3 linked regions of the Homo sapiens genome follow. The protein of the gene in region 2 interacts with the protein of the main gene of each other region in a pairwise test. Each region holds a gene or a part of one and is shown on either strand. Other genes may lie near its edges. The genes, in order: H3-3A, CHAF1A and TRIB3.

What was found.
Region 1: the proteins of CHAF1A (region 2) and H3-3A interact in binary tests that used the Homo sapiens proteins (3 or more experiments, as listed by UniProt).
Region 3: the proteins of CHAF1A (region 2) and TRIB3 interact in binary tests that used the Homo sapiens proteins (3 or more experiments, as listed by UniProt).

Annotation. Positions count from the first base shown.
Region 1 is NC_000001.11:226,065,587-226,069,138, forward strand, and holds part of H3-3A (histone H3.3), read left to right. Parts: intron 1-69; coding exon 70-223; intron 224-3,552. UniProt on the Homo sapiens protein: Variant histone H3 which replaces conventional H3 in a wide range of nucleosomes in active genes. Constitutes the predominant form of histone H3 in non-dividing cells and is incorporated into chromatin independently of DNA synthesis.
Region 2 is NC_000019.10:4,426,541-4,430,190, reverse strand, and holds part of CHAF1A (chromatin assembly factor 1 subunit A), read right to left. Parts: intron 1,528-3,650; coding exon 1,301-1,527; intron 754-1,300; coding exon 585-753; intron 484-584; coding exon 403-483; intron 1-402. UniProt on the Homo sapiens protein: Acts as a component of the histone chaperone complex chromatin assembly factor 1 (CAF-1), which assembles histone octamers onto DNA during replication and repair.
Region 3 is NC_000020.11:390,706-394,355, reverse strand, and holds part of TRIB3 (tribbles homolog 3), read right to left. Parts: intron 3,070-3,650; coding exon 2,777-3,069; intron 1-2,776. UniProt on the Homo sapiens protein: Inactive protein kinase which acts as a regulator of the integrated stress response (ISR), a process for adaptation to various stress. Inhibits the transcriptional activity of DDIT3/CHOP and is involved in DDIT3/CHOP-dependent cell death during ER stress.

The sequences.
Region 1 (3,552 bases), on a different chromosome or scaffold from region 2:
GAAGCTGCCCACTTACCTTTTTGTGCTAGTTATGTTTTTGGTAACAGTTTCTTTATTAATTTTTTAAAGGCCTGGTACTGTGGCGCTCCGTGAAATTAGACGTTATCAGAAGTCCACTGAACTTCTGATTCGCAAACTTCCCTTCCAGCGTCTGGTGCGAGAAATTGCTCAGGACTTTAAAACAGATCTGCGCTTCCAGAGCGCAGCTATCGGTGCTTTGCAGGTAAAATGGTGGGTGGGAAGACTCAGAGTTTGTATTCCTGTTGTGTACCAAGAACAGTTCCAAATTGTTGCATGTGCTTATATCATTTAATCACAAGCCTGTCAGGTAGTTGATATTGTTACTTCACTGTTGAGACTTCAGAAAGGTTAAATTGCTCAAGGTCATACACGTAGAAAATGGCAAAACCATAATTTGAACCTATTTGACTCCAAGGCTTAGTGCACATTCCATTATACCATTTAAAATTTTGAAACATTGCACTAAAAACAATATTTAAAGAAAATCCTCTGGTTTGGTTTATGGATGCTGCAGGACATTAAGAAGAACTTGAGACTAGAGGTCTATATTTGTAGTAACAATTTCAAACAACAGTGCCTAGAATAAAAGAAATGTCTCTTCAGGTCCTGAAGAAACATATAGGTAGAGAGAGCTTAATACCTAGGATGGGAATAGGCAGTATTAAAAAATTATGCATTAAGACGTAAAAGGAGCAGTGAGTGGAGGATAGGATTGGATTGGCAAGATTGGGGGAACGGTGCTTAAAGGTGATACTGGACGTGTAAAGGGGCCAGGATTTGCCTTGTGGTTTCCTAAAGGGGATTAGGGATTGCCACTTACATGTGGAGCATATTGAATTTAATCTTAATCTCTAGCATGTCAGGACTTAGAGAAATACTGTTCTAGAGATATTTATGTATTTGAGATATTTGTGGTTTAAGTTAAGACCAAAACTTGAAATTCCTACAAGATACTTGATAAAGGTATGTAGACGTCATTAACATCAGTCACTTAAGTAACCTATTTTATATTGTGTGGTTGGATTCTTTAGTTGCAAGTATCCCAGAATACAGTAAAGCTACCACCTCCATCAGAAGCATGCAGTTGGGGGTCGTTAAAAATGCTGATTGTTAGGCACCATTGCAGACCTGAATCATTCTGGGGGTGGGGAGGGGGCATCCAGAATCTAAGTACATTCCATTGGAGGATTTTCAAGGCTGCTGTTGCTGTGCTGGGCTTTTGCTTTATGTATGAGAAAGATAGGATAGGTGGATTCCACCCTGAAGTGTAATTGGTCGAGCTGTTTCTATGGTTAATCTAAACTTCATTTGATTGGTGAATTCCAGGAGTAGGCATCCATTAAATTCTCAGTGAGTTGCTGAAATTTCAACTACTAAAATCTTCCATGTTTTTACTTAAAACTTTATTTTCTGTTTTAATAGCCGATTATCTTCAGTTCTTATTTATTACTAAATACAGAAATGTTACTAAGATTCGTAAGCATTGGTACAAAGCTGCTAATATTTTCTAGTTAGAACTGTGCTTAAAGAACAATACTGTACTTGAAAAGTGTAGCGTTTTTAGCTTAAATGTCAATAATGTAGCCTTTTAAATTGAATTTACTAAACAATCTGGGTAAAAGACTCATCTTTCTAAAATTATTCACATGTAAACTTCCATTGTTACTATTACATATTTGTCATTAAGTGTGGTTGTATTGGTTTTAAGCAAAATGTTCACCTCTTCTGTCCACAGTTCTCTTAGTGTTAGATAGCTCTTTATTGGAAAGAGTGATCTTTGTTAAGCTTTTGTGTTTTCTGTTTGCTTTTTTATGCATATATTTTAGTTATCTTAAAAATACAGAGAGTGGGCCGGGCGCCGTGACTCACATCTGTAATCCCAACACTTTGGGAGGCTGAGGTGGGTAGATCACCTGAGGTCAGGAGTTCCAGACCAGCGTGGCCAACATGGTGTGAAACCCCTTCTCTACTAAAAATACAAAAAATTAGCTTGGCGTGGTGGCAGGCGCCTATAATCCCAGCTACTAGGGAGGCTGAGGCAGGAGAATTGCTTAAACCCGGAAAGCAGAGGTTGCAGTGAGCCGAGATGGCGCCATTGCACTCCAGCCTGGGCAACAAGAGCAAAACTCTTGTCTCAAAAAAAAAAAAAAGATAACAGAGGGAGAATTTGTTAATGGAATAGGATAATAGAAGATCGCAATTGAAGTAGAAATCCAAAGGTCCTTTGTTTTTGGCCTTAGAATTACACACTTTACAACTAAAGGATAGCAGGCAGTCCAGTGAGAATGGTAGAGGAGAAATTAGTCTCAGTTTGCCATAGATAATCAATAATTGACTTACTTAAAATATAGTCTTTGCTTTTAATGTCTGAGAACTTGAACTCAAATATTCTTGTGTTAAGTGGACAGTGTTGCTTTGAAATGGTAAAGAGGCAGACGTTGAATATACTCAAAATGTCCTAAACTAATACTTTCTTGTAGTTCTTTTTTTTCTTTGCCATTAAATCAAAATTAATTCATTAGGTCATAAATTAGTGTGGCAGTCTTTAATTCCCATTACAGCCTTAATGTTTTAAGGGACTTTGGGTTACTTGTAATAAAATTGGAAATGTATGGGTCATGGTCAGATCCTCTCGTAGGAGTTCAGTCTCCTCTCAGAGCTGACCAGACACAATCCTTATAAACTAGTAGCCAGGTTCTAAGACAGCAGTGAGAGCCCCAGCTACCACATGCCACATCTGAGTGGTTCTAAGTGATACCACTCTGAAAGGCCACCAGAACCATGGTGCCTGATGGTTTGCTTGCATAGTAGCTTGTACCACATTTTACAAAAGCATTCTAGCTTTCTGTAATCCCGAGGTGCCAGGTTAAGCAAAATTAAACTGTTTTCTTTCCTGATATAATAGCTGATATGCGTTGTGAGCCCCTAAGGAGGCTACAATATGCCATTTTTTCCAGGATTTCTACCCACTTCTAGAATATCTTAAGAACGAATCTCGGAATATTAAGGACTTTTGCTTTTAATACCTGTGGAATAGGTAAGATGCGAGGGACTACTTGCATAGAATAGAAACATTTTTTAAAACTAGCAAATATTGAAAATCTACTTGAGGACAAGGCATTTGGAGTATTAAATGAGATTTCTGTTATCAAGTAACTTAAGGGCACCAAAAAATGGCTGATAATGCAAGGTCATTGTGAGTGCCAAGGAACTAGGAGTTCAGGGTTGCCTGCACTGGCAACAGGAGCAAGAGACAAGTATGCGATTTTCTCCTTCATGGAATAGTCTTGAGCTGGGCCTTAAAGGGTAGATAAGTAAGACTTAGTTGTTAATAACAAATGCTGGAGAAACACACGTGAAAATAGTTCAATTTGAATGAAGGAAACTTGTAGAAGAGTAGTGATAGGGCTAAAAAGGATGAAGCTAGAAATGTGAAAGTACCTTTTTTTTTTTTTTTTGAGACGAGTCACACTCTGTCACCTAGGCTGGAGTGCAGTGGTGCAATCTCGGCTTACTGCAGCCTCCGCCTCC
Region 2 (3,650 bases):
AACAAAAAAATGTAAAGCTGTGAACATCTGCTTTGCATGGCCTCCCGACAGACACGGTGAGCATCGGCAGAAAGCCCACTAGGTCACAGCAGCTGGGCAGTCAGGAGGAAATGGTGTGCAGCAGGCCCGCAGGAGGCAAGAGGGGGCTGTGGGGCCACGGTGCAGATGCGGACGGGATCCCATCCCCAGCAGCCACGTGGGCGAGTGTCACCAGATGAGATTTTTCGAGAGAAGCTGGAAGTCTGGATGTTGAGGTGCGTTCAGGTTTCAGACCACACAGCAGGTCAAACACCAGCTGTCAGTGAGTGAACACAGCTGGGCTGCATCCTTAGCCCCTCACTGTGGGACAGAGACTCAAACACAAGCCGTCTGTGAGTGAAGACAGCTGGGGCACATCCTTACCCCCTCACTGTGGGACAGGGACTCCCCAGGCTCCTCTTCTTCCCACTCCTCATCACTGTCCACCTCATAGTCCAGGAGCTTCTGAGAAAAGAAACACATGGGACTCACAACTGTCTTTGGGGCTGGAGGAAAGGGGCACAGTGAGGAGGTACGGGGACGGAGGCACTCTGGGGCTAGCTCACCGTGTCCTGGGCCCAGGGGTCTCGCGCGCGGATGAGTGCCGTCTTCTTATTCCAGGTACCCCAGTAGGCAGGCCGGTGGTTCTCACAGAACTGCAGGAGCTTCATCCTGCCAAACTTCCTCCTCTCGGGAACACCGTCGCCCTTCCCACGCTCCACGATGACGACATCACTGAGAAGGAAAACCCCAGGCTCAGGATCACGCTGCCTTACAGACCTGCTCACAAACCTCCCAGGAACCTCCCTGTGAAGCTGGCCTAACAATTCTAGAAAGATGGGCATTTGTTAAAAAGCAGCACTGCCTGTCCCCAAAGAAAGGTCAGGAACATGGACTGAAGGGACAGATGGAGGAGGGTGCAGCCTGCAGGGTGAGAGGGAGGACAGCTGCCCAGGTGCAGCCCCAGAGCATTTTTAGCAAGGGAGGTTCTGTGGAATGAGATTTGCAAGAGCGAGGTGTTGGGGGGTATCCTTCACTGGAGACCAGCAGGGAAATAAGATTCCTCCACGAGGAGCTGGGAAGACAGGGAGAGGAAGACTTCAGGAGCTTACAGGAAGGCCAGGTGGAGAGAGGCCTGAGCCAGCACCGAAGCCCAGGGCCCGAGGGCACTAGGAAGCAAGCAACAGAAGGACCCAGAGCTCCCACCCCGGGGACCCCAGGGTTCAGGATGCTGGCCTCCAGCATCACTAGTGGGTGAAGGCCGACCTCCTCAGGCTCTGACCTGTTAAAAATATCTGCATTCCGGGTGGAAACGTGCGTGGGTCCGGACCTCAGGGGCTGCCGGCCTTTGAGGTCTTTCAAGAAGGAGAACTCGCCGCTCTGCTGCTGGAGGAGCTGGTCCAGCTGACTGCAGAGGTCTGGATGGAAAGCGGTCCGACGCCGAGGGGCCAGGACCATGTGCTCTTTAATTTCAAAGGGGGCAAACTTCCCACAGGAGCCGGCCAGGGTCTGAAATCAAGAAGAGACCCGATGGGGTCTTCGAGCAATGGGAGAAAGGAGGCACCATGGACGCACACAGCAGGGTGCTGGTGGGATTCATCCAGGCTAAGGCCAAGGCACAGACTCAAAAGCCCAGGCACTGTGTGGGTCCACAGAGCCGAGTTTCCAGAGCTACAGGGCAGAGGGCAGATTGGCAGTCTCAAGGGCCGGCGGTGGGGGGACAGACTACAAGGGAGCTGTTTTGAGTGATGGAAATAGGGTTTATCTTCATTATGGTTAGCTGGCCCTGTCATTTGTCAACACAAATGTCCTGAAAAGAGTTTATTTTATTGGATGTAAATTATATCTCAACAAACCTCACTTAAAAAAAAAAAAAAAAAAGGCCGGGGGCAGTGGCTCATGCCTGTAATCCCACCACTTTGGGAGGCTGAGGAGGGCGGATCACCTGAGGTCAGGAGTTCGAGACCAGCCTGCCCAACATGGTGAAACCCCATCTCTACTAAAAACAAAAATTAGGCCAGGGGCAGTGGCTCATGCCTGTAATCCCACCATTTTGGGAGGCGGAGGAAGGCGGATCACCTGAGGTCAGGAGTTCGAGACCAGCCTGCCCAACATGGTGAAACCCCATCTCTACTAAAAACAAAAATTAGGCCAGGGGCAGTGGCTCATGCCTGTAATCCCACCACTTTGGGAGGCTGAGGAGGGCGGATCACCTGAGGTCAGGAGTTCGAGACCAGCCTGGCCAAGATGGTGAAACCCCGTCTCTACTAAAAATACAAAAATTAGGCCAGGCGCGGTGGCTCACGCCTGTAATTGTAGCGCTTTGGGAGGCCGAGGCGGGTGGATTGTCTGAGCTCAGGAGTTCGAGACCAGCCTGGGCAACACAGTGAAACCCGGTCTCTACTAAAATACAAAAAATTAGCCGGGCACGGTGGCATGCACCTGTAGTCCCAGCTACTTGGGAGCCTGAGGCAGGAGAATTGCTTGAACCTGGGAGGCAGAGGTTGCAGTGAGCTGAGATCGTGCCACTGCACTCCAGCCTGGGGGATAGAGCAAGACTCCATCTCAAAAACAAAACAAAACAAAACAAAAATTAGCTTGGCATGGTGGTGGGCACCTGTAGTCCCAGCTACTCAGGAGGCTGAGGCGGGAGAATCGTTTGGATCTGGGAGGCAGAGGTTGCAGTGAGCCCAGATCACGCCACTGTACTCTAGCCTGGGCCTGAGGCAGGAGAATTGCTTGAACCTGGGAGGCAGAGGTTGCAGTGAGCCGAGATCGTGCCACTGCACCACTCCAACCTGGGGGATAGAGCAAGACTCCATCTCAAAAACAAAACAAAACAAAACAAAACAAAAATTAGCTTGGCATGGTGGTGGGCACCTGTAGTCCCAGCTACTCAGGAGGCTGAGGCAGGAGAATCGTTTGGATCTGGGAGGCAGAGGTTGCAGTGAGCCCAGATCACGCCACTGTACTCTAGCCTGGGCAACAGAGCAAGACTCCTTCTCAAAAAAAAAAAAAAAAAAAAAAAAAAAAAAAGACAGGGTCTTTTTTTGAAAGATCACAACTCCTCTTTTTTTTTTCTGAGATGGAGTCTCGCTTCATTGCGCAGCCTGGAGTACAGTGGTGCAATCTCGGCTCACTGCAACCTCTGCCTCCTGGGTTGGGCGATTCTCCTGCCTCAGCCTCATGAGCAGCTGGGATTACAGACGCCTACCACCACGCCCGGCTAATTTTTGTATTTTTAGTATTTTTAGTAGAGACACCTTGTTGGCCAGGCTGGTCTCAAGCTCCTGACCTCAGATGATTCACCCGCCTTGGCCTCCCCAAATGCTGAGATTACAGGCATAAGCCACCGCACCTGGCCAAAAGGAGAAATTTCAGTATAATGAAAGACACTGTAGCTGGGCGTGGTGGCTCACACCTGTAATCCCAGCACTTTGGGAGGCCGAGGTAGGCGGATCACCTGAGGTCAGTAGTTCAAGACAAGCCTGACCAACATGGAAAAACCCCGTCTCTACTAAAAATACAAAATTAGCTGGGCGTGGCAGCACATGCCTGTAATCTCAGCTACTCGGGAGGCTGAGGCAAGAGAATCATTTGAACGCAGGAGGCAGAGGTTGTGGTGAGCTGAG
Region 3 (3,650 bases), on a different chromosome or scaffold from region 2:
TAAAATGTAGAAGGAAATATTAACAGAAAATCAGCCTTGGGGGCTGGGCGCAGCGGCCCATGCCTATAATCCCAGCACTTTGGGAGGCCAAGGCAGGCGGATTTCGAGACCAGCCTGGCCAACATGGCAAAACCCCATCTCTACTAAAAATACAAAAATTAGCCAAGTGTGGTGGTGTGTGCCTGTAATCCCAGCTGCTCAAGAGGCTGAGGCACGAGAATCACTTGAACCCGGGAGGTGGAGGTTGCAGTGAGCCGAGATCGTGCCACTGCACTCCAACCTGGGCAACAGAGCGAGACTCTGTCTCAAAAAAAAAAAAAAAAGAAAGAAAGAAAAAAAAGAAAAAGAAAATTAGACTTAGGCAAGCACCACAATAATAACTGCTATAGGCAAGATGGATGGCTGCTAAAATTAGTGGGTGAAAGTTGAGGAAAAACAGGATATTTATATGCCTAGCTTACCTCCCCCAAGGTATTTGTCAATTACAAAGGGTAAATTAGGACCTTACAGTAGAGAAACCTGGTAGGTCCTGCCCTAACCAAGTGATCAAGGTCACGACATAGGAATGACTATCAGCTCAAGTATCTCTTGATATGATGTGGAGAGGGGCCTATCGATTCTGTGTTGTTCTTGCCAAAAATACATAACTGCAATCTAACTGTGAGAAAACATCAATCAAATCCAAATTGAGGGACATACAAAGTAACTGATCAGTACTCTTCAAAAGTCTCAAGGTTATGGCCAGGAGCAGTGGCTCACGCCTATAATCCCAGGATTTTGGGAGGCTGAGGCAGGCAGATTGCTTGAGCTCAGGAGTCTGAGACCAGCCTGGGCAACATAGCAAGACCCCATCTCAATTAGCCAGGTGGGGTGGCACACACCTGTAGAACCAACTACTCAGGAGGCTGAGGTGGGAGGATCACTTGAGCCCGGGAGGTTGAGGCTGCAGTGAGCTGTGATCACACCACTGCACTCCAGCCTGGGTGACAGAGTGAGACCCTGTCTCAAAAAAAAAAAAGTGTCAAGGTCATGGGTCTTCAAAGACAGGGAAAGACTGAGGAACTGTCTCAGATTGGAAGAGACCAAGGAAACCACTGATGACTAAATTGGGATCCTCACTGGATCCTGCACAGCAAGGGGTGTTAGTGGGAAACTCGGGAAGTGGGAATCAATCTGTGGCTTAGTTAATAGTTTGGGTAATTGTACCATAGCTACGTCAGGTGTTAACATTGGAGAGCACTGGTTAAAGGATATGCAGAAACTCTTTGAACTATTTTTGTAGGTTTTCTAAAAGTCTAAAATTATTTCAAGATAAAAAGTTTTTTAAAATGCCATGGGGTCACACTCCTTTCTCCACAGAAAACTCCTGTGTAACTGGCAGCTTAGTGCACTCCCTGACACATCTTGACTGCCCCCAGGAATCTGGAGAGGGAACAGGAGGCGAGTCTCTCTGCCCTTCTCCCCAGAATTATCTTTTAAAAATTTTTCTTAGCGTCTAGGCTGGGTGCAGTACCTCACACCTGTAATCCCAGCACTTTGGGAGGCCGAGGCAGGCGGATCACCTAAGGTCAAGAGTTCAAGACCAGCCTGGCCAACATGGCAAAACCCCGTTTCTACTAAACATAGAAAAAATGAGCCAGGCATGGTGGCGCATGCCTGTAGTCCCAGCTATTCGGGAGGCTGAGGCAGGCGTATCACTTGAACCCAGGCAGCAGAGGTTGCAGTGAGCCAAGATCGCGCCATTGCATTCCAGCCTGGGTGACAGAGTGAGACTCTGTCTCAATTAAAAAAAAAAAAATTCTTAGCATCCCAACCTAGAGAAGGAAGATTCTTTTAACCAAAAAGTGCTAATTCTCAGTTTCACAGAAAACGTTCCCGTGTGGGGAACCTCAGACCCTATTTTGGCTGTGGTCTTGGAATCCTGAAAACACCCTAACAATCCAGCCCTTTTCCTTACCAACGGAGAAACTGAGGCTCAGAGACACTAGGTCACCCAAAGTCAGTTGGTAAGCCCAGCCAGGCCCCTGCCTCTCAAGCTCAGATTGAATTAAGACCCAGGCTCTGGAGTCAGATCTAGGTTCAAATCCCAGCTCTACCATTTATTCTGCTATGGGATCTTGGGCAAGTTACTTGAGCTCTCTGGGCCTCAGTTTCCTTGATCATATGGGGATAATAACAGTACCTGCCTCGTGTTTGTAAGGATGGAAGACCACGTTAGATAATGTGGCGATGCTTTCGTCACTGTCGGCTACTATGACTTTCACATCTCAGTGCTCCATCCCAGAATCCCAAGGGGCTCCCAAGAGGACTGAGTCAACTCTTTTTTTTTTTTTTGAGATGGAATCTCACTCTGTTGCCGAGGCTGGAGTGCAGTGGCGTGATCTTGGCTCACTGCAACTTCCGCCTCCCAGGTTCAAGCAGTTCTCCTGCCTCAGCCTTCAGAGTAGCTGGGATTACAGGTGTGCGCCACCACACTAGGCTAATTTTTGTATTTTTAGTAGAGACGGAGTTTCACCATGTTGGCCAGGCTGGTCTCGAACTCCTGACTTCAAGTGATTCACCCACCTCGGCCTCCCAAAGTGCTGGGATTAAAGGCGTGAGCCACTGCACCTGGCCTGAGTCAACTCTTCTCAGGGAACTAAACAGGGGCTGCTGGTTACTTCAGTTTCTCCCACTTCTTGCCTAAGTTACCTTGCCTTCCTGGGCCTCGGTTTCTCTCCATCATGGCCCACCCCCTGGGTGTGTCTGTGGCTGGGGTCTCTGAGACCACACTCACCTCTCACGGTCAGCGAAGACAAAGCGACACAGCTTGAGATCACGCAGGACCAGACCGTGCTGGTGACAGTGCGCCAGGGCGGTGGCCATCTGGCGGAAGAGCACGGCAGCCTCAGGCTCAGGGATACGGTGGCGGCTTCGCACCAGGCTGTGCATGTCCCCATGGGTCCGAGTGAAAAAGGCGTAGAGGAGCTGGGTACCAGCCAGGACCTCAGTGGGCCGAGCCACATGCTTGTGCGGGGGCAGCCGCGCATAGGGCTCCAGCACGGCCAGGGCTTCCTGGACGGGGTACACCTGTGGGCAGAGCATGGTGTTAGCACAGCTGGGGACTCCCGGGAGCTGAGGCTGGCATTGCAAACAGTCACAGCTGACCTATTAGACACTACCATGTGCTAGGCATCGCACCAAGCGCTTCACTGACCGAGTCACTCAGCCCTGACCATGGTCCTATAAGGTAGGATGACTTGCTCCATTTTACGGTTAACGAAGCTGAGAGGCCACACAGCCAGCAAACAGCACGGCTGAGATTTGCACGTATGCACTCCACTGTCTGTGCTTTTTTTTTTTTTTTTTTTTTTTGAGACGGAGTCTCGCTCTGTCACCCAGGCTGGAGCACACTGGCGCAATCTCAGCTCACTGCAAACTCCGCCTCCTGGATTCAAGTGATTCTCCCGCTTCAGCCCCCAGTGTAGCTGGGATTACAGGCATGTGCCACCGCACCTAGCTAATTTTTGTATTTTTAGTAGAGATGGGGTTTCATCATGTTGGCTAAGCTGGTCTCGAACTCCTGACCTCAGGTGATCCTCCCGCCTCAGCCTTCCAAAGGGCTGGGATTACAGGTGTGAGCCACTGCACCCGGCCTTTTGTCTGTGCTC